3 linked regions of the Homo sapiens genome follow. The protein of the gene in region 1 interacts with the protein of each later gene in a pairwise test. Each region holds a gene or a part of one and is shown on either strand. Other genes may lie near its edges.

Evidence for each region.
Region 2: the proteins of IL36RN (region 1) and SH2B2 interact in binary tests that used the Homo sapiens proteins (3 or more experiments, as listed by UniProt).
Region 3: the proteins of IL36RN (region 1) and UBL4B interact in binary tests that used the Homo sapiens proteins (3 or more experiments, as listed by UniProt).

What each region holds. Positions count from the first base shown.
Region 1 is NC_000002.12:113,061,371-113,070,510, reverse strand, and holds the end of IL36RN (interleukin-36 receptor antagonist protein), read right to left. Parts: intron 8,388-9,140; coding exon 8,260-8,387; intron 8,059-8,259; coding exon 7,834-8,058; 3' UTR 5,767-7,833; downstream 1-5,766. UniProt on the Homo sapiens protein: Inhibits the activity of interleukin-36 (IL36A,IL36B and IL36G) by binding to receptor IL1RL2 and preventing its association with the coreceptor IL1RAP for signaling.
Region 2 is NC_000007.14:102,315,818-102,326,254, reverse strand, and holds the end of SH2B2 (SH2B adapter protein 2), read right to left. Parts: intron 9,069-10,437; coding exon 8,860-9,068; intron 5,925-8,859; coding exon 5,753-5,924; intron 4,957-5,752; coding exon 4,625-4,956; 3' UTR 4,544-4,624; downstream 1-4,543. UniProt on the Homo sapiens protein: Adapter protein for several members of the tyrosine kinase receptor family. Involved in multiple signaling pathways. May be involved in coupling from immunoreceptor to Ras signaling. Acts as a negative regulator of cytokine signaling in collaboration with CBL.
Region 3 is NC_000001.11:110,101,753-110,114,447, reverse strand, and holds UBL4B (ubiquitin-like protein 4B), read right to left. Parts: upstream 2,006-12,695; 5' UTR 1,914-2,005; coding exon 1,389-1,913; 3' UTR 501-1,388; downstream 1-500.

The sequences.
Region 1 (9,140 bases):
AGTGGAGGGCCCTGGGTGAAGGTGGATAGCAAGCTGATGACTCCCACTCTGGGTCAGTGTCAGCTCAAAGAGCTGGAAGAAATTCAATGCTGGTCCAGTCCAGCTGGATCCCATGGGCCCTAGAAACCTCCCATTCTGGCACAGCCAAAATGTACAGTGTCTTTCCCAAAGGCTCCCCTATTCGGCTCCCTCCGCCTGGGTTCTGATAGATTGTGATGAAGTGAGTAAGGGTAGGAAGCTAGCGTCTGGTCCATCAGAGAGCCTGGGTCTTGGTGCTGAACCTCTGCTGTGTGCCAAGCCCCTCCCAGTGTGCCACATGCCTCACCCCCAAAGCTTCCCCTCCCTATTTTCCTCAAATGACTTTTCACTGAACTTCAGTCTATATCCCTCTTTTCTTCCTCTCATTTCTCCCTGGACATGGCATCTGGCTCTCAGACCTCCGCAATTCACCTGTCCTGGCTCAAACACTGCCATCAGCTAAACTTGGGCTTTCCCCATGTTCTTTTGCACAGCACCCTGTCCTATCCTTCATCATTCTCCTGCACAGTATCTATGTGGGATGTTCTGTCCAAGACCAATATTAACTTCTGTGGAGCAAGATCCAGAGATTCTTTTGATTCCTTTGATATTTAGTCATTGCCTCCTTGGAACCCTTGACATTGAATGACTCCCTTCACACCTCTTTCTCCCACTGTAGATTTCACCTCCTTCTGGGGCCACCCCTAAGGCTAACAAGGTCCTAAGCACTTCTATTTCACATCATATTAAGCTGCAATTCATTGACTTCTACAGCTGCAATGATTATCTTGGGCTAATGGCTCCCAAATGTAGACTGCACATCCCACTTTACCTCCTGCAGCCTACAGGACAGCCCACTTTGGACATCCTGCTGATATCCAACCAAATATATTTAAGGTTAAGTTAATTATCTTCTCCTCCCAGCCCACACATTCCTCCCAATTTCATTTCTCTCACTGTCATAATATTCCTCTCACCAGTGATATTCAAAACCTGAGACTCATTGACAATATCTCCTACTTCTCCTGACTCAGTGTCTAACTTATCAAGTCCCTACAGGTTATTTCTTTAAAATATAACTTTGTGTTTTTAATTGCCATTACTACTGTACTTGTATTCCCGGTTTTTCTGCCTTTCATTCATTCCAACCTATGTGAGGAATGTGGACCCACGTTCTAAAGATTTTTTTCACCACATCCCTGCCCAGCTCTAGAATCTACAGTGACTGACTGTTTTGTCACCGTCTGGCACTGATTTTCTTGTGTGATAGCATCTCACTTCTCCATGGACACTAAACCACACCTCCTGGCGACATAATTCCTTTCTTATCTTCTCAGTGGACGTACTCACAGGTGTCCCATTGTTCTCCCTGCCTCAAAAGTCATCCCTTCTCATTGTCATCCATTCAGATCTTTTGATATTAAGATCACTGGAGATAGTATCAGTATAGATGGGTTCAGTATCTAGTTCTATCAAATTAATTACCAGTGTAGAGTTACAGCTTAGACATACAGGGTTATGTCTTTTAACCTCCAACCCTCAGTTTCAGCACTATACATTCATGGGATTAGATTATGTGGTTATGAAGGTTCTTTCTAGGCCAAACTATTTATAATTCCATGACTCAGAGTTTAATGAATCTTTCCCTTACTATTGTAACTCTACTCTGAACTCCTATTAAATTTTACTGTATTATTTATTGTTGTACATAAAGATATTTGTTTCCCTTATAAAAGTTTATAAGATCTTGAAGTCATGAAGCATGGCTTACAGCTCACTTGAAGCTCTCTCCAACCACCCTAATTGAACTACCCTGGTCCTTGTGGCCAGGACATAGAAACACACAGAGCAGACTTTGAATAGAAAGGCTGAGTCCTAGACCTAGCTCTGCTACCAATTTATTTTGCCACCTTTTATCCCTGGGCCTTCAACTTATCAACATTGGATGGAAAGATTGAGTAAGGTATCTTTCAAAACTGTTTTAAGTTTCACAATAAAATTTTATGCAGAATTCTAATGATTGTAAAAAGGATAAAGGGCAGCTGCTTTGCTGACACAGGAAGCAATGGAGACTTTGGAACCCTGCTAGTATTTCTCTTGCCTACAAAGAAGACACTGAGGAGCTACCAAGGAGCACAAAAAAAAAAAAAACGAAAACAAAAAATCTCTTAAGCTTCCACCAAACACGGTTTGAATACCATTGGCCCAGATGGTTTCTTTTGAGATTACTTTCTAAAGTCAGTTGTTCTAAGTAGTTCAGAAATCTTGATTTGGCTTAACCTATTCCTTCTCCTCAAATCTCTTTATGTGCTCCTAAATGTTTTTGATGTCCCATCATGTCATATGAGGGGACTACCTTGTTACCTAGACAGCTTGCCAGGAGGAGTGAAGGGATAGAGGGCATACCAGAGATATTGACAGGAGAGAGTAGAAAAGAAAGAAAAGAGAGAGAGAATATTGCCTGTCCATCACTGACCTGCAGATCCTGAGTTCCTGGAACCCTGATCCCTGGAGACTCCAACTGATTTCTCCAGGGCATTGCGCTGTGTTTATACCGTCTGGTACAGGTGGGTCAGGCCTGCACCAATCTCTATAATTGGCTGCAGGACATGAAGGAAGAAGAGCCTGGGCATTTCACAATGTCTTTGGTACAGCATGAATAATAAGATGGTGGGAACATTAAGGAGCATTTGTTGAAGGGGGAGAGAGTCATCCATAAAGCCTTGGCAGAAATAAGGTATGGGGCCCCTGCTCTGTACTGACTGTCGTTGACTATGTTATTAGTGGGTTTGCAGCCAGATAAACAGTGCTGGGGTCAGACATCTTTGGTGCCCCGTGGGGCTCCATCCTAGGCTTGAAGAGGTGGTGAATACAAGAGAAAGTATGTCTGGCAAGCCCAAGGACAGAACAAATTCTGATGCCGGAATCCAGGCTGTGGCCAGACAGCCAGAATAAGAGAAGGGGCTGATAGCACTGTGAGTGTGACTCTGTTTGGAAAGACGAGAAGGGAGTCTCTGCTTTTCAGTGGGTTTAATTAGTTGGTACCAGCTTGATGGGACAGAACATCTAGGGAAACCCAACTGCAAAGATATTGACCTCAGATTCACCCTGAGACTGAGCAGACATCATGTGCCATGGACTGCTAGGAAATATGATAGTGTGAGTAGAGCACAGAGGAAAGAACACTCAGGTCTCTAATTGACATTACTTGACTCAGTCCATCCATCCATCCATCCACCCGGCCACCCATCTGTCCATCTATCTACCCATCTGTCCATTCTTCCATCCATCCATCATCCATCCAACCATCCATCCACCCATGTGCCCATCCATCCACCCTTCTGTCCACCCTTTCATCCATCCATTCATCCATCCATCCATCCATCCATCCATCCATCCCTCCATTACAAGCGTGGAGAAGCTTAGGTGTAATGTTCTCTGGAAACTAACAACCTTATTATAATTCTCCCTCTTTGGTCATTTGCAAAGTTCCACCAAGGGCTTCTTGAGGAAGTGGGATAGGTGGGTCTAAGACTCAGATGCCTGCAGGATGAGAAATGAGAAAAGATGGGCAGAAATGGGACCAGATTTCTGCTTTCTAAGGCCAGTGATCATTCTTCTTCCACTCTCCCAATCTCTCACCCTTCTATGGGAAGGCTTAAAGCATGAGTTACTATGTCAGGCAACCAATGAGTGTTTACCCAGCATTTACACTGCTGTGTGACACAGACATTCAATACACAGTCCTTGTTGTTAAGTAGTTTCACAGTCTAGCTGAGGAACTAAGTCATAAACACTTGAAAAGATAATTAAGAAGACCAGACTCTCTAAGCTGTGGGCCAAGGACATGTTGGAAACAATAGTGGCAGATAAGCTCCTTGGGCAAAAAAAAAATCTTAGAATTGAAAGGACTTTAGGCCAGGCATGGTGGCTCATGCCTGTATCCCAACACTTTGGGAGGCTAAGGCAGGCAGATCCCTTGAGGTCAGGAGTTCAAACCAGCCTGGCCAACATGGTGAAACCTCGTGTCTACTAAAAATAGAAAAATTAGCCAGGCATGGTGGCATGCACCTGTAGGCCCAGCTACTTAGGAGGCTGAGGCAGGGGAATCACTGGAACCTGGGAGGCAGAGGTTGCAGTGGGCCAAGATGGCACCACTGTACTCCAGCCTGGGCGACAGAGTGAAACTCCATCTCATAGACATGGAATCATAGTTTCCCTCCAATTGGAGAAATCTGTGCTATGGCATCCCTGAGAAATTGGTTAATTAGGCTCTGCCTTAACATCTCCAGGGTCAGGGACCACACAACCTCTTGAAGAAACCCTATCAATGTTTGTGGTCCTTGTGGTTAAAATATGGGGGTCATATAGGAAAAACAGCCTCCACATAATTTGCACCCATTGGTTCTGCTTGTGTGTTCTGGAATTACACAGAACAAGCACATTCTTCTACTTGGCAAGCCTTTAAGTGCTTGAAGAGGGCTCCCTGTGCATTGCTTTTTTCAGGATAATACCTCCCACATCGTAGCCTCTTCCCTACAGCCTGCCCTTGGAACATTCTCTGTTCCTCGATGTCTGCAATTTGTACAAACCCCACATGATGTGAGTATTGCATCTCTGTAAATACAGGTCCAGGCCAGTGATTTATACCAAAATTGCAGAAATCTAAAGCCACTAACTCTTTTTCACTTGTAGAGTCATGATGTCCAGCCTGTACATTCCTGAAGGAGGCATTTTATATTCCTTCTTTTACTACTGACTTGTGTCGGCTCATCATGGCTAAAGCTCTTCTGAGTTCTGTCATCCTACAAATGAGGAAGCAACAAATTCAGGCTGGAGAAACCTTCAAGAATGAGGTGGAATTTAAGCTGCTCCCTTAGAGGTGGGCCTGTTTAGATGGGTGGAGGAGAAGGAGAGAATATTCCAGGGTGGAGAAATAGTTTCTACATTATATACTCATTGGGTTTCCATTATGTGCCAAGCATTATGCAAGGTGCTAAGAGACAAACTTATATGTCCCTAACCTTAAGGTCATCCCAGGGGCCACAGACTCCAAGTTAAGGTACTACAGTGCAGGGAGGTGCATACAAACATTGCCAGATCAGATAGCTGGGGGTGTCTCAACTCAGTAAAAGCTTCTTGGAGGAGGTGACATCTTAGCAGGGTATTGAAAGATGAGAGATTTATCTAGGCAGAGAGGATGGATGGAGGACCCAAAAGCAGAGGGAGCAGCACAAGACTGTGTCTGGGCCCATGGACAAAGAGAGTGTGAACAGGGTCTGAAACACAGCCTAGCATCCGGAGCTCATGTTCTTGGCAGCCCTGAGAGGCCTGGGGTAGGAGCTGTGCTGCCTGTTGCCTGAGGACTTCAGCTGAATCTGGGCTGGAGCTGTGAGGTCCATAGAGGCAGCCTTGTCTGTCCTGGCCACCTCCTTGCCAGTGCCTCAGTGGACTCTCAACCACCAAGCTGGTCCAACAGGTGAAGTGCAGGTGGAATACCTGGGGCTCAGATATGGGCTCCTCCTCTGGCTTCTGCTCCCATTCCCCAGGGTTTGGGTGGGGACACTGGAGTTCATTCCTGGCACATAGGACAAGAGGATCTCAATCTTGCAGAACCAGATGACTCAACAAATGCTGTATTATTAGCTTTTAAATAGAATATTTGGGTAAATGAAGGATAGTTGTTCATTGTGAGAAAGAAAATAAAAAATATTGGAGAAAATTGCAATAATAAAACAAATGCATTTGTTTCTCTTTCTCTGCATATTATTTATCTATTGCTGCATAACAAGTTAGACCAAAACTGAGCAACTTAAAACAACAAACATCGATTATCTCACAGAGTCTCTGCTTCTAGGTTCACTAATGTGGCTGTGGGCAGGAGACTTCATTTTTTACCACGTAAGTCTCTTTATAGGCCTGCTCATAGCATGGCAGCTAGCTTCCCCCAGAGCGAGTGAGCCAAGATAGATTGGGGGCGGTGGGTGGCAGAGAGAGAGGGCTCAAGTAGAAGCTGCAGTGTCTTTTATAACCTAATCTTGGAAGTGGCATGCCATCACTTCTGCCATATTCTATTGGTCACAAAGACAACTTTGGTACATTGTGGGAGGGGACACACACAGAATGTAAACACGAGGAGACAGGGATCATTTTAGCAGCTGTATTAGTTTCCTAGAGCTGCTGTAACCAATTATCCTTGGTGGCTTAAAACAGCCGAAATTTATTCTTTCTTCGTTCAGGAGGCTGGAAGTCTGAGATTAAGGTTTCAGCAGAGCCGTTATCCCTCTAAAGCCTCTAGGGAAGAATTCTTCTTTGCCTCTTCCAAGCTTCTGATGGTTGCCACAATCCTTGGTGTTTCTTAGCTTGTGGCTGCAAAACTCCGATCTCTGCCTTCATCTTTACATAGTCTTCCCCGCATCTCCTCTGTCTCTGTGTCCTCTCCTTTTCATACAAGGAAACCAGTCATATTGAATTTAGGTCTACCTTCATCCAGCATGACCTTGTCTTAACTAACTACATCTGCAGAGACCTTATCTCCAAATAAACTCACAGACTGAGATTCCAAGAAGGATGTGAATTTGAGGGGGACACAATTCAACCAGTACAGCAGCCTTCTTAGAGACTGGATCCAATGCCTTGGAATCCCAGGGGCTGTGATCCTTCTAGGAAAGAATTACCAGATGATTTTTGTTCTTTAAGTTCCTTACCCAGAGATTCCAGCCACACAAACTCAGCACAGCCTCCTCCTCAGTGGCTTTGCTGAGATCTGTTTCCTGATCACTACTACAACCAACCAGAGCAGCAGAGCTCGATTCAATTTGAATTTACTCTGGGGAAGTGGAGGCTGAGGACAATCAGAGATGATGTCTACTCTGCTTACCTCAAGATTAATTTCTTTTCTTATTTTTATACAAGGAATTCATCTTCATTGTAGAAAAATTAGGAAATACAGGTAAATTAACAGAATTAAAAGAAAAATCACCTATACTGCCACCACCCTGACATTGCTACAATTGAAGTAAACTCTTCCAGACTTTTTTCTATAAAGAAATATATAAATAGGTATCTTTTAATTAAAATAAATTGCAATATATGCCACTTTGTAAGTAGGTCTTCTCAATATGTCATGAGCACTTTTTCATGGGAATAGAGACCAGCATCTGGGATTTTGATTGTATCTTGGGTTTTTAAAAGAGGATCAGCATACCCTACTTATCTTTTATCTTCTGAGCTCGAGCCATTTCTTCTGACATCAGCACCTCCTCATGCCCACAACAAGATGATGAGGGAAGAGATAGGAAAGGTAGCATATGACAGTGGCAGGATTAAAGGGAAGGAGGTGGGGCTGGGCCAAGGGCCATAGATCCCTGACTCTATGACCACCTCCCTCTCCTGCATAGTGGTGAGTGACAGGTCTTCATGTGGAGAGCTACTGACCCTATAAGGCTCAACTGGGGATGGGTTGGCCTGCGGGGCTCAGGGTAACACTGGTCAGTTACCATTAAGCAGGAATGATTCCCACCACTCCCCCACCCCACCTCCACAGAAATCTTTTCATGTTATTCCCAGTTTACCCCACATGGTTTTTACAAGATTCCACAGCAGTAGCACCATCCAGTGGGGGAGGACCGTGGACTGAGCTCCAAATCTCAGAATTTATCCAAACTGGGAACCAGAAGACAAAGTGGTCAGGTGCCCACTAAGTCAGACGTGGGGGTCCTGAGAGCAGAGAGAGTGATTGTCCGCCATGGGTCTCCTCCACTCACCCCTCACCCGAGCTGGCTCTGCCCAGGGAGTTCTGGGGGGCACGTTGCCCTAGTCACACTGCTGGAAGTAGAAGTCTGTGATGGGGGCATTCCAGCCACCATTCTCGGGAAGCTGGGTGAGTCTGACAGGCTGATCGGCTTCAGGCACCGTGCACAGGAACCAGCCCGGGTAGGCAGCCGACTCGAAGCTGGAGGTGAGCCCCATGTCCCGCCGGTAGAAGGTGAAGCTCTTGGATTCCTTGGCACCAAGATAGAGCTCCATGATGTTCACTGGCTGCCGGCAGAGGAGGGGAGGTCAGGTGAGGGCAGAAGCAGGGGCAGAGGGAGGGCTGGGCAGGATCCTTAGGGAGGAGGCAAAGCTGCCATCAACAGAATCCTGCTAGGGTGTCCCACAGCACCAGGGCTGTGGGCTGCCCGGCTTCAGTAGGCTCAGCATCTGTGGCTGAGTCCCCAGTGAGGATGCCCCAAGTCTCACCTCTAGTGTTAGAGTCGGCTCCTGCCCCACCCCACATGACAGGCACTGGCTTCCACCCTGGACACCCAGGATGACGGGGGACAGGCTGGCATCCAGCCACCGATTGGGGACCACGCTGATCTCTTCACCTGTGGGAAAGAGGCCAGATGCAGGGCCCTGGATGCCTTTCCCTCCTTCTTCCCCTGTCCTGGGCTCTAGGGCACAGGACTGCTGTAAGACGGCCTGCCCCCAGGCTGGGCAGAAGGGAGGCTTCTCAGCAGCTGTCATGACATGGCTTCTCCTGTCCACTGGCTCAGAGTGGACATCAAGGCATGGAAGCACATTGTACCACCTCCACTCCACCCTCTAGTTCAGGGTCAAATCTTCAAGCCTCTACACCCCAAAATAGATTCAACCCCCTCCTTTAATGTCCCTTGGGTCTCAGGCCTTTTTCTGAACCCTGTCTTGATAAGCCCCCCTTTGGAATTGTTTGGACAACTTTCTACACCCTGTGATGTTGCTGAGAGCAAAAGAGGGTCTCATTCCTCTCTGTACATCCCCTCACCACCCACATACATCAGATACATACATACACAGATACATGCATGCACACATATACATATACACACACATGCTCATACCTACATACCTGCACTCACACATACATGGTTACACACAGATACATGCATGCACACATGCTCACACATATATGCCTGCATGCACACATACATACACCAGTAAGCACACACATACACATATGGCCTAGCTGAAGGATCTACCTGGCATCTGTGCTCAGCAAGGGTGCCCCAGGTGGGCAGGTGCAAACTATTTTAGAGAGGGACGTGTTGCAGTGCATGGGGCAGAGTGAGCAAGCAGGAGGTCCAACAATGCCACCTGTTCTC
Region 2 (10,437 bases), on another chromosome or scaffold:
TCTTATTAAAGGATTTTGAGGCCGGGTGCGGTGGCTCATGCCTGTAACTGCAGCTTTTTGGGAGGCCGAGGTGGGTGGATCACCTGAGGTCAGGAGTTCAAGACCAGTCTGGCCAACATGGCGAAACCCAGTCTCTACTAAAAATACAAAAGTTAGCTGGGCGTGGTAGTGGGCACCTGTAGTCCCAGCTACTCGGGAGGCTGAGGCATGAGAATTGCTTGAACCCGGGAGGCAGAGGTTGCAGTGAGCCAAGATCCCACCACTACACTCCAGCCTGAGTGACAGAGCAAGACTCTGTCTCAGAAAAAAAAAAAAAAAAAAAGGCTTTTGGACCGAGGCAGGAGGATCACTTGAGGATAGGAGTTCAAGGCCAGCCTGAGAAACATAGTGAGACTCCTGGTCTCTACAATAAAATTAAAAATTAGCAGGGTGTGGTGACACCCACCTGTAGTCCCAGCTACTTGGGAGGCTGAGGTGGGAGGATCATTTGAGCCCAGGAGATTGAGGCTGCAGTGACCTGTGATTGCCCCACTGCACTCCAGCCTGGGCAACAGATCAAGATGCTCTTTAAAATAAATAAGAAATAAATATAGGATTTGGGGACAATGAATGAGATTCATTACTCAACATTCACATTAGTGTATCGCTTTGCTTTTTTTTTTTCTTTTTGAGACAGGGTCTCACTCTGTTGCCCAGGCTGGAGTGCAGTGGAGCAATCTTGGCTCACTGCAACCTCCACCTCCCCAGTTCAAGTGATTCTCCTGCCTCAGCCTCCTGAGTAGGTGGAATTACAGGTGCCGCCACCACGCTGGGCTAATTTTTGTATTTTTAGTGGAGATGGCGTTTTACCATATTGGCCAGGCTGGTCTCGAACTCCTGACCTCAAGTGATCTGCCTGCCTCGGCCTCCCAAAGTGTTGAGATTACAGGCATGAGTCACCGCGCCTGGCTGCTTTGCTGTCTCTTAATACTAGGGATGTAAGAGCCCCTCGCCATCGCAGGAAGTTTATTTCTTCTACCCCAAATGGGCTAGAACTTTTCTAAGTTAGAAGTGCCCAATAGGGTCTAAGGTGATCTCAGGGAGGACAAAAAACCCTTCCCCGGAGCAGGAAGGCAGAAGCTCGATTGATGTTGATTTTCAGTAGGAAGACAGACCATGAAAGCACGGTCACACCATGCCCCCTAAAAAAAAAAAAAGAAAAATATAACAGAAACGCCCACCAGAAGGAACTGATTTTTATTGTACTGTATTTGATTTTGTTTTGTACGCCAGTTCTATTTATTTATTTATGTATTTATTTAGAGACAAGTCTCTCTTTGTGTCCCAGGCTAGAGTGCAGTGGCATGATCTCGGCTCACTGCAACCTCCACCTCCTGGGTTCAAGCCATTCTCTTGCCTCAGCCTTCCGGGTAGCTGGGATTACAGGCACGTGCCACCACACTCGGCTAATTTTTGTATTTTCAATAGAGACGGGGTTTCGCCATGTTGGCCAGACTGGTCTTGAACTCCTGACTTCAAGTGATCCACCCGCCTTGGCCTCCCAAAGTGTTGGGATTACAGGCGTGAGCCACCACACCCGGTTGTGATCTTTCTTCCGTCACTGTCCTCCTGCTCTGCTGCCCTGCCCTGGCCCCTTGCCCCTCACCCAGACCCACCACAGCCTCCCTGGCCCCCCGCCTCATTTTGCCGCCTTCAATCCATCCTTGCCCCAACCCTCTGGCCACAGGGTGATCTCAGCTCCCATTTTAATTGGCACTGGCTCTCAGCACCTTCCAAACTCCCTGGCCTGGCATTCAAGGCTCTCTCTACCTTGCAGGTCTCATATCCCACCTCGCTGCTCCTGCGCCTGCAGTCCCCCATGTCTGCGACACCCAGTGTCACAGGTCAGCCAGGGCACTTGTGGTCCCAAAGCTTGGCTCAGCTACCCCATGGGCCTGGCCTGGCGCAGAGCAGGCATCTGAAATGCTTGTTGAGGAACAAATGAAACCCCCTTGAAAATGTTGCTGCCGTCTGTGCAATGGCTGTGATTTCGCCAGAGCCACTGAGTCTGGGCTATCTGGAACCACCCTCTTGAGTGACAGGCTTGAGGATCTCACGCTGGTGACCATACTGAAGAGAGAGCCCCCTTTTCACTGACCTCCTGGGCCTTCCTGCTGCATCCCTTGGGAGAGCCCGGGGGGGGGCAGTCACCGTATCAACTTCTGCTGTCCCCCCCCGAATTCACTTTAACCTGGGAACACCCCAGGAACAGCGCCTGCCCCCTTAGGATTGGCACAGACCCTCTCCCACAGTCTTATACTCTATGTGTGTGCATATGTGCATGAGCCCCCCATTGAGCAAAGGTGACAGTCAATCAGTGCTTTTGCCTGCTTCTGTGCTGATTCTGTTTTGAGCATTCGGCATGGAGAGTGGCCTCTGCTGTGGCTGACGACATCAGGAGGAAAGGACAGGAGGGCCTGAAGGCTTGCACACTCTGTGTCCAAGTCTTTTTTTTTTTTTTTGAAATGGAGTCTCCCTCTGTTACCCAGGCTGGAGTGCAGTGGCGCGATCTTGGCTCACTGCAACCTCCACCTCCCGGGTTCAAGCGATCCTCCCACCTCAGCCTCCCAAGTAGCTGGGACTATAGGCACGCACCACCACGCCTGGCTAGTTTTTTTTTTTTTTTTGTATTTTTGGTAGAGGAGGGGTTTCACCATGTTGGCCAGGCTGGTCTCGAACTCCTGACCTTAGATGATTTGCCCGCCTTGGCCCCCCAAAGTGCTGGGATTACAAGCGTGAACCACTGCCCCCACCTGGTGGGTCTAAGTCTTAAGTCTGCCCCTGTTCGTCTGCCCAGCCCAAGCCTCAGTCCAGAGCCCGCTCTGTTCTTGTTGGAGTGGAATGGGGACTTGCACTTGGCCTAGCATAGACCCCAAACCACCAGGGCACGGGGGCAGAAGGACTCCAGCCACAACCGAATGAAGGTGCTAGAAGCAGAGGTAGCAGGGTGCTCTCCTGATCGCTGAATTTGTATTCTTCCCTCATCATGGTGGTAGCAGGGGGCCCTACTCTGTCACTTCCTGATGATGTTGTGCATGGGGACTGGGTGGCTGAAAGCCCTGGGAGCCACCCAAGGGTGTTCATGCCCCTTTTATGGGGAAGAGGCTGTGTCTTAGTTACAGTCCTGAGAGCTTTAGATGTCTAGGGATCTGAAATCTGCATCATTGGCCAGGTGCAGTGGCTCATGCCTATAATCACAGCCCTTTGGGAGGCTGAGGTGGGTGGATCGCCTCCCACCCAGGATTACTCGGGAGTTCGAGACCTGCCTAGCCAACATGGTGAAACCCTGTCTCTACCAAAAAAAATTAGCTAGGCGTGGTGGTGCACGCCTGTAGTCTCAGATACTTGGGAGGCTGAGGTGGGAGGATAGTTGGAGCCCGGGAAGTTGAGACTGCAAGTGAGCCAAGATTGTGCCACTGCACCTGTCTCAAAAAAGAAAAAGAAAGAAAAGGAAAGAAAGAGAGAAAGAGAAGAGAAAGAGAAGAGAGGAAGGAAGGAAGGAAGGAAGGAAGGAAGGAAGGAAGGAAGGGGAAAGAAAGAAAAATAGATGGATGCATCATTGACCCAAGCCCTGCAAGGCCAGTCTTGGGCAAGGGGACTGTGGGTCTGTGACCCCAGGTCTGGGGTGTTGTGGGGAAGGCAGAGGTTTGGCTTAGTAGGAACAGGATCTTTCTTGAACACTGCCTGGGGACTGGGGTCCTGGGACTGCCAGCAAGCAGTGTCTCCAGAGCCTGGGGTCATGGGAGTCACAGCTGGAATTCCACTTGTGGGTAGGTGTGGGGTGGGAATGAGACGGGGTGGGGGCTGGGTGTGAATGAGGTGGAGCGCGGTGGGTGGGAGGGCTCTTTAAGCTTCTTCCAAGTTTAAGTCTACCACCGAGCTGGGAAATCCAGCCTCTTCCATTGCCCAATCCCCTAAGGGCTAATATGGAGACATCCTGCCCTGCCGCCCTGTCCACACCGCCAGGCTTCTTCCTGCCCTGCCGCCCTGTCCACACCGCCAGGCTTCTTCCTGCCCTGCCGCCCTGTCCACACCGCCAGGCTTCTTCCTGCCCTGCCGCCCTGTCCACACCGCCAGGCTTCATAGATCTGTCTAAAAACGCCTTTACCCTCCCAGTCCGGGCCTCGACTCCTCCTCCTGGCATCCAAGCTCTCCGTATGACTTGGGCGTGCTCCCCATCCCTCACTGTGTCCTGAATGCCCCCTCCTCTCTTTTCAGCACCCCTCATTGTTACCACCTCCCATCTCTCTCCCTCACAGCTCCAGTAAAGCCCCCTCCCGATCCTAAGCCCTAACCCTTGCTGTTGGGCCCTCTTTCAGGTGCTGCCCGACGCCCCATGGGGAGTCCCTCAGCTGTCCCACCAGAGACAGAGCTGCAAGGGGGCCTGGCAGGTGTCAGGCCACACTGGGCTGGACGGGGGTCCCTGATGGACGGGTGTCTCTGAGAGTGGCTGCCCCGCAGTCCCCGCCTTCCCCGTGGGAGAAAGGACGACAGGAGAGCCGGGTGCAGTCCCTAAAACAGGCTTTTAATAACATCGTGTCTTCACTGAAGAGCTTGGCGTGTCCCACCCGGGCGGCGCCGCGGGCTAGTAGAAGGAGTACTGGTTCTCCACGGCGCGCGCGCGGCCGGGCGCGGCCTCCGGGGGCTCCTCGGCGGCGGTGGCGGCCACGGCCTCCAGCAGGCGCTCGGCGCTGTTGCTGCGGCTCCGCGCGCTGAGCTGGCCCTCGACGGGGCGCGGGGGGGCGGGCCCCGACGCGGCAGAGGACGACGAGGCGGAAGACGAGGAGGCGCCGGCGGCGTCGGAGGGCGAGGCAGGCGGGCAGGCGGCCGCGGCGAGGCTGGAGAAGTAGTGCTGGCCGGGCGAGTCGCTCCAGCAGGCCGGGGACGCGGGCGCGGCAGGGGGCGTGGGGCCCGGCTCTGCAACAAGGCGACGGCAGGGCGTGAGTGGGGACCTGGGCTGGCCACATCCTGCAGGGAGGCCGGGATCCCTCAAGGGGCCAGGGCCCACGCTCAGGTTTCCGAGTTGCAGCCCATGTCCTCGGACACATATGCAAGCACACCCGCCCACATGCATAAACAGAAGCACACACACATACATGTACCTAACCACGCGTGTGCACGCCCATATAGCCACATGCACAGGAGTGCACACACACGCATACATAATGCACACGCTCGCACACAGGCACACAAGCACACGCGTGCCCATGCACGCATGCACACGCTCATGCATATGCGCACACACGCACACGTAAGCGTACGCACACGGGCACATGCACACATACACTCATGCACACACACAAGCACACGCATGCACATGCACCCATGCCCTTAGTGCTCGGTCCCAGCAGCTTTGCTCTGAGCCTCCCCAGTGCAGGGCTTAAGAATCCATATGCCCAGCTCCTTTCATCCCACTTGCCCCAATCCACACCCCTGTCCCCACCCCCATACACCCACCTGCACTGCTGTTGGGCGCCCCCTTCCCCTTGCCAGGAATCATTAGGGACCTGGCTGCCTCTAGGCTGCCACTTCTGCCTCCATTCCTTATGACGTGACTGCTTGAAATTGCTGTGGCTAGGCTAGGGTGGGAGGGACACGGCTGAGGCTATGGGACAGGAGACCTGGGGCTCATCCCACCCCAGGGACCACCTTCTTGAGTAATCAACGGGAAGTCTTCTTGAGTAATCACACCAGCCAGGTGGCGGCATCTTACCTGGTGGGGGGTCCTGGGCCCGCACATAGCTGCGAAGGGTGATGTCGGCCGAGCCCCCTGACTCCAGTGGGATGGGGTGTGTGTGGAAGTGGCGGAGCATGTCAAGCACAGACTGGAACCACAGATGCTGTACGTGACACTGGCCGTGGCCGTTCAGGGACAGGCGCAGGTGCTGTGGGTACAGGTGGGTGTGGTCAGGGGCAGGTCCGGGGCTGGGCACCTGGGTAAGCGCCTTTGGGGGTTGATGGAAGGACCAAGGCTCACAGGGGCTGTATGGGGCTGTGTCAGGGCCGGGGGCCCCTCACACATGAGCCCCATCTGGAGATGGGGAATGGGGGCAACGGACCCAGGCTGAGATGGAAGGCATCAGGCATTGTCCCCATGCTGGGAGCACCTCCACTATGGGCCCATGCCCTACACACCTATAATCTCTAATCCCCTCCCTAATGCCAGAAGATAGGGATTACTGCCCCCATGTTAGAGATAGGAAAACCAAGGCCCAGGGAGGGGGAGTGACTGGCCCATGGTCACAGAGCACAGAGCAGGGAAGAAAACTCCTGTTTGGGTGGTTCCCCCAGCCCAGGAGGCTAGAGGTTGGCCCTCTGTCCCTGCAGAGCCAAAACCCGGAGGCATGGAAAGCTCCCCAGGGCTGGCTGGGGAGGAGTGACCGCACGCTGTGGGAACAGCTGGAACAGGGCTGGCTTCTCTCTAGGTCTCTAGGGCCTGTGTGAGGCAGGTGCCTCAGGGTAAGAAACCATAGGCCTGTGGTGTCTAGTGGAGAGCTGCAGGTCTCTGACTTAAGCCCTATTTTGCTCAACATGTATCCCACTGCAGAAACAAGTGGCTATCTCTGGGGTGTGTGGGGCAAGAGGGGAGCTAAGAGGAGTGGTTTGAGGGTACACGCATAGCCCCAAGCCCAGGAGGGGGAGCTGGTCTGGCCACCTGCATAAAAGACAGACAATCTGCTAGGTGTGGTGGCTCACGCCTGTAATCCCAGCACTTTGGGAGACTGAGGGGAATGGATCACGGGAGGTCAGGAGTTCAAGACCAGCCTGGCCAACATGGTGAGATACCCCCCAACCCTTTAAAAAACAAACAAAAAAATACAGACAATCCCTGGAGCGGGGTGGCGGTCCCACAAGTGAGCTCTGCCACTTAGCAGAATAAGTTGCTAGGACAATGCAGGGACTCAGCCCGAAAGAAACAGCACAGAGGGGTCCCACCACAGCCTCATAGCTGGGCAGAGCCTGCGCAGGGCACAGCTGGGTCCCTGGGGAGAGAAGAAGCAAGTTGGACGCATCCCAATCTTCTGCCAGACCTTCCAGACATTTATTCTGTGAAGGTGGAAAGAGTTGCCTCTGGGAAGGTAGTGATCTTCCCTCCCAGGAGGTATGTAAGCTGGAGGCTGGGGTTCCTGCTTTGTCCCACCATTTACTTATCAGGCCTGGGGCAGTCATCTCCACTCTGGGAGAAGAGCAGCTGGGTAGAGAGGTGAGAGGCAGGTTCAAGGCTGGGTCTTGTTCCAGGAAGGAGAGGAGCTTGCCACCCACCCTTTGTTCCCCCATCCTAGCCTCTGGCTTGGGCATGAGTCAGATCCAGGCCCTCTGGGAGGCTGCCTGGAGCAGCACTGGCTGAGAAGTAAATTGCACGTCACCAGGGATGGCCTTAAGCACCTGGTTGTCGGAGGAACTGTAAGGGTGGCTGCTTGCCAAGGAAATGTCCCTGGTGGAGGTGCTACCTCCTGCATGGTGGGGCCAACCTGGAGGAGGAGAGAAGCCACCAGAGGTTCTGCACTGAGCCACTAGGGGTTAGGGCAGCCGGGGTCCCTGCAGAGAGACACTGTCCCCCAGCTGCAGGCCTGGAGCAGGAGTCCTAAGGTTCTCCCTCCTCTAGTAGGGGCCGCCAGGAAATCCGTCCTGGCAGGAGCCCAGGCTGAGTGTTTCCTTATCGGAAACCTGGGATGCGGGGGTGGGCACTGAGGTTCCTGCCCCCTCTGGCCACATTGCACCCCCCCATAATCATTTGCCTTTGCTGTCAAATTTTCCTTTGAATTTCAGGTCAATAGGCCGGGCGTGGGGGCTCACGCCTGTAATCCCAGCACTTTGGGAGGCTGAGGTGGGTGGATCACCTGAGGTCAGGAGTTTGAGACCAGCCTGGCCAACATGGTGAAACCCTGTCTCTACTAAAAATACAAAAATTAGCCAGGTGTGGTGGTACGTGTCTGTAATCCCAGCTACTTGGGAGGCTGAGGCACAAGAATCGCTTGAACCCGGGAGGCGGAGGTTGCAATGAGCTGAGATTGCGATGTTGCAATCCAGCCTGGAGGATAGAGCGAGACTGTCTCAAAAAAAAACAAAAACAAAAACAAAGCATTTCAGGTCAATATAGCAAGGAATCCTCTTCCTTGAAAGCACACCGCCTGGGTGTACCATCATGCCTCTGATCCAGCTGGGTGCTGTTGGGATCGCCTTCCTGACTGTCTTCCCCTCCACAATTCTCCCTCCCCTGCAGGTCTCTGATCAGGCTGTCCCCTCCAATGCTGAACCCCACCCCCTAGACCCTGCACAGCTCTCCCACCCAGCCCAGCTCCTCCTCCCCTGCTGGGTCTCTAGGGTTTGCCCGTGTGTGTTCCTCAGGGGTTGGTGACCTAACCTGGGCAGGGAAGAGGGGCTGTCTGAGGTCGGTGGGGCAGAAGGTGGGGCTCTGAGGGCCTTGGTTGGCTCCCACCCCCCACTGGGCGATCTCTGGGTGGAGACCCTCCGAAGCTCCAGTGCTATGAGATCCCCCGCGCGCAGGAGCTGAAAGGATTTGCAAATTTGGGTTATTAGAAGGGCCCAGCCTCCTGAGGGCTCAGCCGCCAGTAGGTGGCCTCCCCTTCTGGAGAATGCAGAGGCTGAAATAGGGCTGACTGCAGTCCCTCAGTGATGTGTAGGAGGGACGCAGGTGGCTCACGGAGCATGGCTGGGGTGAGTGGGGCCCGTGGGAAGTCATGCCACACCTGTTCGCCTGCAGCTGCTTCCAGGGCACAGCCTCAGGACCGGGGTCACCATGACCCCTCTCCCTCAGGGCTGGCCACTGCACCCCCATGGCGCCCCCCACACACTTGCCTTGGCCTTGCCCTGGAAGTTGAAGGTCAGCACGTACTCCCCAGGCCGAGTCTCACTTTGGCGGATCACGAAGAGGCCGTGGTTCCGGGGCCCCCCTGCCAGAACCAGTTGAGCAGCCTTGACCCGGGACAGTGTCCCGTGGAACCATGGGTAGTCGGATAGCTCCAGCTCGGGTTCAGCCTCGGGATCCGTCTCTGCACCCTGTTCCCCTGAGGTGGGGATGACAGTGTGAGGAACATGGGGGGAAGGAGAAAGGGGGACAAATAAATAAATGTGAGAAGAGAGGTGACGTCTTGTTGGTTTTTTTACATGCAAAATGCTGTTGGAATAATGTTTAAAAAGTTGGTTGGTTTTTAGTTTTTATTTTTTTTTTGAGACGAAGTTTCGCTCTTGTCGCCCAGGCTGGAGTGCAATGCTGCAATCCCGGTGGCTGACTGTAACCTCTGCCTTCCGGGTTCAAGCGATTCTCCTGCCTCAGCCTCCCGAGTAGCTGGGATTACAGGCGCCCACCACCACACCCAACTAATTTTTGTATTTTTAGTAGAGATGGGGTTTCACTGTGTTGGTCAGGCTGGTCTCAAACTCCTGACCTCAGATGATCCACCCACCTCGGCCTCCCAAAGTGCTGCGATTATAGGTGTAAGCCATTGCGCCCAGCCTTATTTTTTATTTTTTAGAGATGGAGTCTTGCTGTGTTCCCCAGGCTGGTCTCAAACTCCTAGGCTCAAGTGATCCTCCTGCCTTGGCCTCCCAAAGTGCTGGGATTACAGGTGTGAGCCACTGCACCTGGCCTGAATATTTTTTTGTTTGAGACAGAGTCTTGCTCTGTTGCCCAGGCTGGAATGCAGTGGCGTGATCTCGACTCACTGCAACCTCCGTCTTGCAGGTTCTAGTGATTCTCCTGCCTCAGCCTCCCAAGTATCTGGGATTACAGTCATGCACCACTATACCAGGCTAATTTTTGTATTTTTAGTAGAGACAGGGTTTCACCATGTTGCTCAGGCCGGTCTTAACTCCTGAGCTCAGGCAATCCGCCCGTCTTGGCCTCCCAAAGTGCTGGGATTACAGGTGTGAGCCACTGCGCCCAGCCAAATAATTTTATTTATTTATTTATTTTTTGAGATAGGGTCTTGCTCTGTCACCCAGGCTGAAGTCTAGTGGCACAATCATAGCTCACTGCAGCCTTGGCCTCCTGGGCTCAAGCAATCCTCCCACCTCAGCCTCCTGGGTAGCTAGGACTATAAGCCTGTGCCACAATGCCTGGCTAATTTTTGTTTATTTTTTGTAGAGACAGAGTCTTGTTGCCCAGACTAGTCTGGAAGTCCTGGGCTCAAACGATCCTCCTGCCTTGGCTGCTTGAAGTGCTGAGATTACAGGTATGAGCCACTGTGCCCAGCTGGAATAATTTTAGAGTTGGGCAGGGAGCTGACCCAACCCACTGGTGAAGTCTATGAGGTAAACTGAGGCACAGAGCTGTGAAGGACTATCCTGGAGTTACTCTGTAAGTCATCAGCAAACTTAGGAACAAATCCAGTCGCCTGTTCCCAATCCCTGATTCCAACCCTATGGACCCTTTTC
Region 3 (12,695 bases), on another chromosome or scaffold:
GTTGGACAGTCTTTGCCTCTAACCGTCACCAACACTCATGGGGTAAGTAGATGCTGTTATAAGGATGCCCATGCAACAGGTGGGAAACCTGAGCATCAGACAGGAAAAGCAGGTTACCCATGGCCACACAGCTGGACTCGGACTGGAAGAGAGGATGAGGGGCCCTGCAGGCCAAGGACAGGATGCTTCCTAGGGAAGGGGGCCCTGCTTGTTCAAGACATTCTCCTCCACCCCTTCCCTCCATCCCCATCACTCAGGACTGAAACTTTTGCAATAACAGCATTTCAGGGGCTTCAGCAGTGAATGGGGGACCACAGCTCCCCACTCCCTCCCACTCACACACAGAGTGTGGGGACTCCTCAGCCTCTGCAAGGGCCACTCTCTCACTCAAAGAACAGAGTAAAGGGCCTGGCTTTCCTCGTAGTCTGCAGGGGACTGGCCCCTCTATGCTGAACCCAGGGCCCCGTGAGGCCCCGTGCATTCAGTCACACACACTAGACTCTAGTTTCATGTCACCACTTTACTTTTCACATGTATAGCAGCTCTCTGCATCTAGGCTGCGTGCTCTGTGAGGGCAAGGATCCTCATTGACAGATACCATTTTTCCTTCCAGGGAGCCTTGGGCAGCGCTGGGCAGGTAATGTGAGCTGTGATACCTACTGACTGATCAGTCTGGGAGGGTGGGGCATGGCTCTGTTCACGCTGGCCACAGGGAGTGTATGACTTTGCTGAACTTTTTTTCTGCCTGAGGCTCAGTTTCCTGCTATTCTTGGTCTGTGTCTGTCTCCCTGAGGGCTCCAGGGCTGGCACCCGGTACGTGCCCTCCTCCCACTCTCACCTCTGCTGTGCCTGTCCCTTAAGCTGGAAGCACAAGCAGGAGAACAGCAGGGGCAGCCTCACCCAGAAGGCAAGGGGCAGCTACCTGACATTCCTCTCCTCTTGGCTGCTGGGGAGCCTAGGGGAGATGTCACGGTCTGAGGATGGAGGAAAATGAACTCACATTGTCTTTCTGTCCCGAAGGAGAAAGAGGGTCTGCCTAGAACCATGGAGACCCTGGGCCAGGGCTGCTTTCAGCCTGGGGAGCTGCTGGGTATGTGTGGGCAAAGCTGCCAGCACAGGAGGGGACTGTGGCCTTTGGGGCTGCCCTCCGGTGATCAGAACCCTTCTAGGGGAAGCATGGTGATGAGGGTTGGTTCACTCTGCATTTCAGAGGGAGGACCTCAGGCCCAAGAGGGGACAGGGATCCAAAAACCCTCCAGCTGCTTGGAAGGTTCAAAAAGGGGTGTGGACGCATCCACATCAGCAGGAAGTAGTAGGAAAAGTCACCAGGGAACACGTAAGGATGAGGCCGGGAGAATTTTAGCATGCAAATGGGTAGGATGGCCCGTTTACTGATCAGCTGCTGCCTCCTCCTTCTCCTCCATGTCACAGGAGCTCTGAGGCCGTGCCTTCGCCTCAAGCTCCCTCTCTCCAGCTGGCTCCACGTGAGGCTCCTCTGCCAGGAGGTACTGGGCCAGCTGCTCCAGGTGCTCCAGGCTTATCTTCTGCAGGCGCTCCTCGTGCTCCTGCCTTAGCAGCTGCAGCACGGCCTTGGCATCCTGTGGTTCAAAGTGTTTAGCTAGGACCAGTCCCAGCTGGTGCCACAGGGGCTGGGTCTGCGGCTGGTGGGCCTCCTTTAGCGCCATCTTCTCCAAGGGCTGCATGATGACATTGATAGAGGCATTGGGCCCAATGCAGTAGTCAGAGAGGTGCTTGTCATCCTCCAGGAGCTGGCCACGGAAAAGCAGGTGCTGCTGCTCCTCAGGCACCTTCAGCCGCCTGGACACCAGTCTCTTCAGCGTGGCTACACTCTCTTGCCCTGACACCTTCAGACTGCATCTCTGGCCCAGGAGCAGCTTGACTGTGAGGAACATCGGGCTGAGTGGAATCAGGAGGGATCCATGCTCTGGGAGCTGCCCTGAAGATTAGGGGGTCCTGCGGGAGATGTTGGCTTCTCCCTATCAACAAAGGGCTAGTAGTCCCAGGAGACCAGGGACCCAGCTTAGGCAGGCAGCCATTGGCTAGTGCACGGTGATGTCACAATGCTGCGGGGGGGCTCATTTCCAGAGTGGAACTTTTGGGACAGCAAAGGGGTATTTGGGCCCAGAGCATCCTTCCTCCACGAGAGGAGAAAAAGAGCACTAGGAAAGAAAATGTGGGACTGGGGGAAATGAGAGTGAGACTAGGGAAAGGGAGGGAGGGAAAGGACAGGGTGGTGGGAGGAGCATGTCTATTGATTTCTTCAACACATGTGTATTAGGTGCCACCTCTGTGCCAGCACCTGGACCTGGGGAGACAGTCATATTCAGATGGATGACTTCTGCCTTCATGACACTTTCACACTAGTGAGCTGGCTAGCATTTATCAAGCGTCCTCTTTCTGTCAAGCACTTTACACGCTCTTTTGGATTGGGCTTTCCAGCAGCAGACACTGAGACAGGGATTTGAGAACAAGTACTCAATTAGGAGGTGATCCCAGGAGGCACCAGGAGGGGAGTGAGGATGTGAGATGAGGACGGGAGGGAAATCAAAACGTGCATTCATGAGCAGGTTGCCATTGTGGGCAACTAGTATGTTATCCTGCTGGGGAGTTCTGGGAGGTTGCATGGAACACACCTGAGTTGCACCAGGTGTGGTTTTTTTGTTTTTTTTTTTGTTTTTTGAGACAGGGTCTCACTCTGTTGCCCAGGCTGGAGTGCAGTGGCATGATCTCGGCTCACTGCAACCTCCGTTTCCTGGGTTCAAGTAATTCTCCTGTGTCAGCCTCCCAAGTAACTGGGGCTACAGCTGCACGCCACCATGCCTGGCTAATTTTTGTATTTTTAGTAGAGATGGGTTTCTCCATGCTGCCCAGGCTGATCTCAAACTCCCAGACACAAGCAATCTGCCTGCTTTGGCCTCCCAAAGTGCTGAGGTTACAGGCGTGAGCCACCGCACCTGGCCGAACCTGCATCTTTATGCTCTGACTCCTGTCTTTGGCTAATAGAAGTGCTACCTCCTTGGCACTTCTGGTCCACAGGTGTTAAGCAGCATGCTCCTGTGACCACAGAAAAGTAGGAAGCCATCGGGCCCTCAGGAATGTGAGTGCTGAGGGGATGGGGCAGGACAGCCCACAGCATCTGCATCACAGGCCTGCCTAATTGAATCCTCTCAACCTATGAGGCAGGCACTGCCATGATCTCCATCTGCCAGAGGAGAAAGTGGAGGCTTGGCTGATCCTACAGCAAGCAGGCAGAATTGCTCTTGTCTTCACTGTTACCTCATGTTGCCTCCTAAACAAATCTCTGCTCAGTGCCTTTTGTGGCCCAGGCCCTGAGCAGGCACCCCCGGCTCAAAGGTGAATATGAAAAAGGACACTGATTGGGCCTCCTCTGTGTCTGCAACTTCTGCAGCATTTGGCAGTTTTCAGTGCAACACATTGCTGAAGGCCTTCTGGGTCAAGCCCTTTATATATGTTGTCACAATTTAGCCTGGGAGGAAAGTATTGTCTCATTTTAGAACTGAGCAACTTTGGAGAAGACCTGAATAACGTCTCGCAGCCAGTGGGCTGATTTTGTCAGGGATCCCCTCAACTCTCACCAGCTCTGTGCTCGACTGTGCCCTTCTTCTCACTCACCTTCTCCCTCCCTCCCACCTAACCTCCTTTCCTTTTCCACCTGCCTGGAAGCTACAGTGGCATGATGCTGTTGTCAACATCCTTGGACTTTCCTGAACTGCCCTTCCACAGCACCCAGCCCTGAACTCCGCCCAAAGGTGGCTGCAAGCTCTGTCCCTGTCTTTGGAAGCTGGCAGCCAAGAGCAGCTGGTGAAGATACCCATGGGGCCGGGCGCGGTGGCTCATGCCTGTAATCCTAGCACTTTGGGAGGCTGAGGCGGGCAGATCGTGAGGTCAGGAGTTCAAGATCAGCCTGACCAACATGGTAAAACCCCGTCTCTACTAAAAATACAAAAATTAGCCGGGCGTGGTGGCGCGCACCTAATATCCCAGCTACTCGGGAGGCTGAGGAAGGAGAATCGCTTGAAACCGGGAGGCAGATGTTGCAGTGAGCCGAGATCACTCCACTGCACTCCAGCCTGGGTGACAGAACGAGACTCTGTCTCAGAAAAAAAAAAAAAGAAGAAGAAGAAAAGAAATATCCATAGATGCCACAGACTCAGCAAGCCCTCACCCCTCACCCCAGCCCCATGTTCACTCTTGCCGGGTGACTCATATTCTAGTCCATAGGGAAACTAGAGCTCACAAGTCAGGAATTCCCTGACCTTCCGTCCCTTCCTCACTTCCTTCCTCCTCTCCTTTCCCCCACTAAATGAGCCCCCTTGTTATTTCCCTTCTTCCCTGAAAATGTCTCCGAAACCCACTCCTCCTCCTCTGCATCCCCACTGCCCACCGGTTCAGGCTGTCAACTCCCTCCAGCCCATAGTTCATCTCCTCCACCAGTCCCACCGCCTTGGGTCCATTCATACCACAGCCAAGGGGATCTTCCCAAAATAAAAGCAAGGTTGTGTACTCCTCTGAGTAACACCATCCAGTTTAGTTTCCTCTGCTTTTGGAATCAAAACTGACCTCCTTGGCCGGGCTCTGCTTGTCACCCAGCCTCGTGCCTCCCCACTTGGCATCCTCCACCGTAGCCACACCAGTCTGCGTTTCCTCTACTTGCTTGTCCTATTTGAACTCTTCCAACTCATCCTTCAAAACTCAGGTTAATGCATGCCTATAGTCCCAGCTACTTTGGAAACCAAGGCAGAAAGATAGCTTGAGCTGAGGAGTCCAAGACCAGCCTGGACAACATAAGAAGATCTTGCCTCTAAAAAAAAAAAAAAAAAAAAAAAAAGAAAGAAAGAAAAAAGAAAAGAAAAAAAAAAGAAAGAAAAAGAAAGAAAAAAATTCAGGTTGAAAATCACCTCCTCCATGAAGGCTTCTTTGCTCTCCCCAGCCCTGGGAAGAGATAATCCCACCTCCCTCCATGCAACCATTGCTCCCCTTGAACTTACTTACGTGAATGCATCTAGCACACCTCATTAGCTCTCAGAGACTGGGACTAGGTCTTCTCTGCCTTTGTGTCCCACGCTTCCAACACAAGCCTGGTACACAGAATGCCTTGAATACCCGCCTGTCAAATGAAGAAGATAAAATTGAGACACATTGAGCCATCCAGGGGCATGCAGGGCAGGTCCAGTGCAGCAGGCTGTGGAAAGACATAAACCCGCCTGCAGCCTCTCTCTCACCCCCACCTCCTGCCCTAGAGAGATGAAAATACAAAATTACATAAAAAATCAATCAGAAAGTGAGGCCAGTCTTTACCAAAGGATCTTCTATAGCATTTCTTTAAATAGCCAGCTCCCCTGGTGCATTTGAAATAAGATAGAATTTGTAAATGTACCTGTACATACAGTGTGGGGGAGACCTGTGGACTCTCTTACTGCAGGGCCTCTCTGCAGAGGGAGCAGGGGGATGGATGAGGTTTCTCCTTGGCCATGTGGGCACTCCCAGCCTCTAGAGGGGAGGACTCAGTGGTGGACAAACCATCAGATGGACAGGATTGGGGCCACACCATGGGAGATGTCCTGAGCAAAGCAGAAAGATGAAAATCAACTGCCTGCCTCCAGCATCTCTTCCTCAGACCCATCCACCCAGCCAGACACTGCCCAGGACACTGGAAGCCACTGAAGAAGACATATTGGGCCTGGGCTTCTAGAAGCACATGAGCACCACAGCTCAGGCTTTGTTTCTCCCAGACCAGCGGCTGCGTGCAGGCAGGGGCCCTTGTGACTGGGGCTTAGAGAGTCATATCTGCTGGGCCACACTTTCTAAACCAGGCTACCTGTTCTAGAGAGTCCTAGTTGGGCCATGAAGATAGAAGCTTCAGAATTAGTGGTGCCCAGAGAAGCCGAGAGAGATGGTCACTACCCAGCTGCTGTGTCTGTGCCCAGGAGACCCCATTGCCTTTCCTAAGGGGGACAGTGGGGGCACTTTGCTGGACCCTCAAATCACATTTGGAGCCTGGAAATTTTATGTTTTCCCATGTAATTGCTTGTGATAATTATGCAATTAGCATTAGAAAATGTAATTGTGTAATCGGAGCATGCAATCAGACAATGATTGCCATAATTAGGGGGGAAGATTATTGGGAATGAGTGGGTCTGGTGACTTGGGGAAAGGAATCAATGTGTGCAGACAGTGCTGGATAGTATTAGGCTATCTTGAAAACAACTGCAAATGCAATTTGTGTCACTGGGAAACAAGCACAATGTCCGGCAGGGAAGATGGATGGGCGTGGGAGGGTGCTTCGGAACAGGTCTGTGAACATCTGGGTTCCTCAGAAGCCCTTTGCAATCTCCTGAGCAGACGGACTGGACATTGAATGCTGAGGGTGTGAACTCCTCAGGATAAAAGCCAAGTGTCCAGCTGCCGGCCTGGGGCCTGCCTTGAGCAATCCTGTTCCTTGAGCCCCATTTTCCTCCTCTGTCTAACGGGAGTGTGGTCACTGCCCAGCCTCCCTTGCAGGGTTGCTGTGAGGGCCAAAATAGGTAGGCCATACCCCCAGGACCTCACACAGCATCCAACCCATGAAGACACCCAGACGTATAGATTTAATTGATAAATGTAAACGGCAGCTCTTACTGTCACCCCTCGACAGTGAATGAAGATCCCACTGTGCCTAGAACTGTGCCCAAAGTGTGAATCCCCACAGGCCGGGGTGGGCCCCACTGCTTGCACAGGTCGGCAAGCAGAGGCCTTTGCTGACTGCTGAGAGGGGCCCCAGGAGGTGGGAAGTTCACAACCACTCCCAGGGGCCACAGGAAAGGCTCATATAGAAGATAAACTATAGCCTCTGCCCACCTCACTCCCTGGAAAATGATGAAGTTATTGCACTTTAATGATGTCAGGCTGGCCTTCCAAGGAAGGTGCCTGGGATGGAGCAGAACCTGGGGAGACAGAGAAGGAGAGCAAAAGCAAGACAGAGAAACGGAGAAGGAATGGAGAATAAGAAAGCCGAGTGTAGGAAGTGCTTGGAAAGGGGTGAACAGTGGAAGGGACACAACGGAAAGGGGATGGGATAAAAAGTGCAGGCAGGGGAGCAGCACCAGGGAAGAAGGTAGAAAAGGAAAGAACTGGGGTGGGCGCGGGGTGGGAGAAGCAGGAGCATGAAGGGACAGTTCATGCAAACCAAGTGCAGTCAGTAGCGCTACAGGCCTCCCTTCTAAGAACACAGTCCTCCCCGCTCTCCTTACAGTCTGCAAATGGTTCACGGGGAAACTTTGGTAGAGAAAGTGGAATCTGGGAAGCTGAGAGCACAAAGCTGTGGTCCCCAGCATAACCTGCTGCCTCCAGCCCATATAGCCGCATCACTCAACAGTGTGTCTCGAGCGCCCATGATGTGCCTGCACCTGCAATGGTGAGGTGAAGACTGGCAGGTCACCAGACACAGCCCTGTGGCAAGGGCTGCCCCAGGCCCACCACTATGCTGCTGGAGACCCCACTCAGCCTGTGCCACCTCCTGTTGCTGTCATCAGGGACCTCTTACCCCTTTGAGGAAGAGGGCTGCTTTGTGCCCTGTCAGGCCTAGCATAGGACAGGACCGGCAGCTCTTTAGGTGGCCCCTGACCCAGGCTGCCCTCCATAGTGCCTGGCACATAGTAGGTGCTCAGTAGGTATGGCCCACTCCCTGCCTGTCATCCACTGGCTGGCATTGGCTGTCTCAGCAGCTGCACCAAAATGGGTTTGGGGCTTCTCCCATGAGGGCCCTAAAGCCTCCTCCCTTCCCGGGTCTCAGGGAGCCGAGGCCCAGGTGAACCTGAGCCTGGGGCCTGCAGGGCCAAGGAGCTGGAGCAGGAGGAAGGCAGCAGATCTCATGGGGCCACAGGAGCCCAGGGGACATCACTTACAGTCCCAGCCCTCTCTGGCTGACAGTGGGTAGTCCAATATCTGAAAGGCCTCAGTCCTCACACCAGACAACCTAAGTCCTGCCCTGTGCTGGTGTCCCAGAGCCCTGGAGAAGTCAGACACTGGCTGGGAGCAGATCAGAAACCTGGCTCCAGAGACCACATGGAACTCACAACTGCTGGAAAACCTCACCGGGCTGTAGCCTGCTGTGACCACTAGATGTCACTGGTGACCTCACCAGCCAGTCCAGCAGCTGACACCAACCAAGCCAGCCTGGGGCCTGGGCACAAGGTCTCACGTGGAGACCAGCCCCCTCCTCCTGCAGATCACCAGCCATACTCCTGCCCTCCTCTTCGGGGTCGTGGTCTGAGCACAGACATCGCCTGGCCCTGAAGCAGGAACAGGATAGTAAACTTTACTATGGAGGCAAAGAAGTTCTAACTCCAGCAGGAGGTGGGCCCTGATCACAGGCTTCACCTGGGAGGGAGCTTGGGTGGGTGTGAAGGAGGAACAGGAGTTGCCCTGATGAAGAAGGATGCCCTGACTGAGGGCCCAGCACACGCAAGTCCATGTGGAAGTGTGGGACTCGGTGAGCTGGAGTGCAGCAAAGGAGTGAGAGGCGAGGCAGTCAGGAAACAGGCAGGGCCGTCACCTTCACAGAAGAGCTCTTTCCTGGAGCCAAGACTTCTGCATCCCTGCAGGGCACAAGCACAGGAGTCCCCAAGGAGCAGCCCACAGCTATCACTCACTCTGTCTTACACACACATGCACACGCACACGCAAACGCACGTACACACATGCCCTGCTAACCTAAGCTGGGATCAGCAGGGGGCTTTCTTTCCCACACTGTCTCTGAGCTCCACTGGGGCTCTCGGAACACCAGGACCCCAGCCAGTGTTATGGTGCCAAGAGTGAGTTTCTCCCTCCCTCATGGCCTTCTCTGGTGTGCCCTGGAGGAGACACTGCCCATGGTGTGGCTGGTGGCCCATCATCTCTGTTAAGGGTGCTTTAATCATGATCAACACAGGGGCATCTCCTGTGCCCGTCTGCACTCTGGGCTGTGTGATTTCAGCTGGCAAAAAGTAGTCTGCTTCAACCTGTAGCTGTGGGACTGCCATGCATTTAAACATACCAAACAGGCTGGGCGTGGTGGCTCACACCTCTAATCCCAGCACTTTGGGAGGCCAAGAGGCAGATGGCTTGAACCCAGGAGTTTAAGACCAGCCTGGGCAACAAGGCGAAACCCCATCTGTATAAAAATACCAAAATTAGCAGAGCATGGTAGTGTGTGTCTATAGTCCCAGCTACTGAGGAGGCTGAGGCAGGAGGATCGCTACAATTTTATCATCCTGCCTCAGGATGATAAAAGTGCTGGGATTATAGGCATGAGCCACTGGCCTCCATGTGGTTCTTGAGTACTTTTTTCCCTTTTGTTTCCTCTTAAAGTGCTTCCTGAAAAATCTACAATTTTATCTTGGTTGCAAGAATAAGGAAAAAAAAAAGATTTCTTCCCATCTAGGCCAGATTAGATGGAGAAGCAGAGGGCCTCCTGGGCCAGGCAGAATGGTAGCTATATTCTGGACATTCTACAAAGGTCCAGCTGAGGGCCTAGACTTGGCAGGCACCCCCCCTGGGAATGGCTTTGATAAATGTTCCCCTTCCTACAGGGGTGACTGCTTCCTTGAAGATCTGTGTCATCAACCAGAGCGACAGGAACCCTCCACCACGTGGCAAAGATCAAACACGATGCATTAAAAGCCAGGACCAAGAAGGGGCCCACAAAGCCCTGCCCTGAACACCTCCTGCTCTTGCTGGTCTTGCAAGTCTACAGCCAGGTGTGGGTGGAGAAGCCAGTGGCCAATCTAAAGATGCTGCCACATGGATCGTGCAGGACCAGAGAGAGTCCTTGTTGCTCCTGGCGAGATACAAAGGCTGGTCTTTCACCAGGGCAGCTTGTGCTAGCCTTTCAGCCTGACTCTTGGCCTAAGGGTGCTAAGGCGAGTCCTTGGGTGAGATTCCTGCTAACAAGACCCCTTCTGTCAGTTGAGGAAAGCAGGCTCCTGCCAGAGAAGATGACATGGAACAAGCTGCATGACATCTGCCCCAGAGGAAGCCAAGACCAAAATGAAGGAACAAGGGAAAAAGAGTGAGAAAGCTGGGAACAGAGTAAAGCTGGGCTTGGGGGAACTGAGCTACCTGTAAGACAGATCTCTGTTAGGGGAAGAGAGACTAAACTACAGCTGAACAGAACAAGGGGCTAGTAAACTTGGATTTGACTTAGGCTTGATTAACCCCAAGGAAGTCCAGTTGGCAGGTGGGATGTTGGGTTAGGGTTACAGTTAGGGTTGGCCTATTATTTTGTTTGACTTCCTGCTCCTCTAGCTGGTAGCACTAGCCACATGCAGCCACTCATCAGAACAAGCTGGAGCCAAAAGCAAGAGGGAGAATATTTAAATCCAGCCAACAGCTGATTGGATGGTCCCATGAGCAGCATGGACTGTATGGAAAAACGGGTCCGATCAGGGGCTGCCTCAAGCTCCATAGCAGACCATCAGAACTACTTCAGTGGAGTCATTCCTGGTATCAAAACCCAAGTGACTACCTGTTGGACCAGCAGCCTCATATCCTAGCTGATGGCCATCCCAGGGGTCACCAATATGAGCTTCTGCCCTGAAGTGCCTCTTCCACTGCAAGAATATCACACTGGACTGACTACCTTTTGTACATTAAGTTTATTACCTAATAAATGCTCCTAGGACCCACAGACAAGTCACCCCATTACTTTCATTAACAGGGACCTGATTAAGAGTTAAGTGTCTTGGAAGGGACAGGACTCATGGTAAGGTGGGAAGTATAGAGCATCTGGCACCAGAATTGGGGGTGGTAGGGGCTGGCAAGAATGTTACGTGGGGTCTTTGCCCTGGAGAGAACTAGAGAAAGACAAGAGAGCCAGCTGTCAGCCCTGCCTCTCCTTTGGCCTCTCCAAAATACTGCCTCCCTTTGTCTCCCACCCAGCAGAAGCGTGGACCCCAGATTCAATAACTGCTGGCCTGAAGCTATCTCTGGCATTTGCAATTGGCCTGAACACAAGGTACTCAAAGGAGGCCTGAGAGGCAGTGGGCATGGGTCAGGTGATGGGTGGGTCTGGCTGAATTGAGGCTGAGGGCCAGTCCCACAGCCCAAGCTCTTGGCACCAGGTTCCTGGCAGGATGGCAGCTGCCCATCAACGCCAGACTCTGTTGGGAGTGGTGCATCTGCAGTGATGTCCCAGAGGCCAGGAAACAAGGTGGGAGAGTCATGTGGGGTGGCCCTGGCCTCCCTCCCTGCCTGCTGGTAGCCCAGTTGGGAAGGAAGAAGAGCCCTCCAACCAGGATGGGGCTGCAGGGAAACAGAAATTAGCACTCTGCCTCTGGGTCCTGACTAAGCTTATGTGCCAGGCATTGAGTCTTCAGAACTGGGACCCTCCAGCCCCTTGGCTGGGCAAAGGCAGTTGTCACGGCCAGACCGGATTCTTTACCAGACAGGAACCAACGGCCCTAGAATGGGATCTGGTAGGAATCACATAGGTTAACAGATAGGGTCTTCTGTCCAAGCTGCTTCAGGGTCTCAGAGTGGTCAAGGCAGGAATCTCCAGAGCTATCCAAAACCACCGTGCACCCCCTCAAGCTCCCACTTACACCTGACCCCTCCCCTACTTCTCTGCAAGGGGTGGCATCTGAGTCTGGAATGACTAAGAATTACATTTAGGGAGAAATTTCTGATATAAGGCTGGGGATGTTGCTTCCTGCAAACCAGAATAGGTGACTGGATGGTCCTGCCGTAGCCTAGACTGGGGAGTCACAGGCTGTGAGTCGTGGATTGTCAGAGACAACGGCGAGCTGAAAAAGCAACCCCCTACCACACCCATCAAGAAACTGGGGCCCAGAGAGGTGACTTGCTAACTTCATGCCTATTGGGGAGGGGTTTACACACCAGCAGAGCCCTGGGGAGAATGCTTTCCGGGAGAGGAGCTGGCCCAGAGCCCAAGGAAGTGAAGCAGGATGGCCGTGAGGAGCCAGGCATGGGGAGTGGTCCCCAAGGCCCCAGCTAAGTTTCTGGGCCCCAGATGAAGAGTGAATCGCTGGTTCTCCTTGGAGGGGAGTAGTCAGTCACCCTGTAAAAGTTTATTTTTATACATGTCTGATGTATTTCACATCCGCTCAGATATTTTGACACACACACAGGAAATGTAACTCTCCCCCATATGGCAGTGTTTGGTTGGCCGGACCTGGGGAAACTCAATAGGGTCACAGAGGAGCAGAGGGGAACTGCAGCATCAAGGAAGAATGCCAAAGGCCTGAGGCCATGATGGGCACTCCTGGCCGGCAGGCTGGAGACGGAGGTCACGGTGAGGCCAGTCCTCCTGCCTGGATACAGAGCCCTGTATCCAGTCTGGGACCCCAGACTTAGGAGGCCAAGTGTGGCTCTGGTTGCTGCTCCCCAGGAGGGAGGGGAGATCCCTATGAGGATGAAGAAGGTCCGGAAGAGCAGCCAGAGTGGGCCACCAAGGGCATGGGCTGCAGGACAGACAGAGACACGCAGGCCTGAGCGACAAAGACTGGGGCGCCTCTGACATCAGCTGGGAGCAGGGATTTTCTCCATGTTCCAGCATCCCAGGAGGAGGAGATCAGGGAACCTACAGCTCAGATGAAATAAAAGCACAGGGAAACAGCTCTGGGCTGGACCCCACCTGGCTGGAACTTTCCGCAGTTACCCAACTTCCTTGAGCCTCA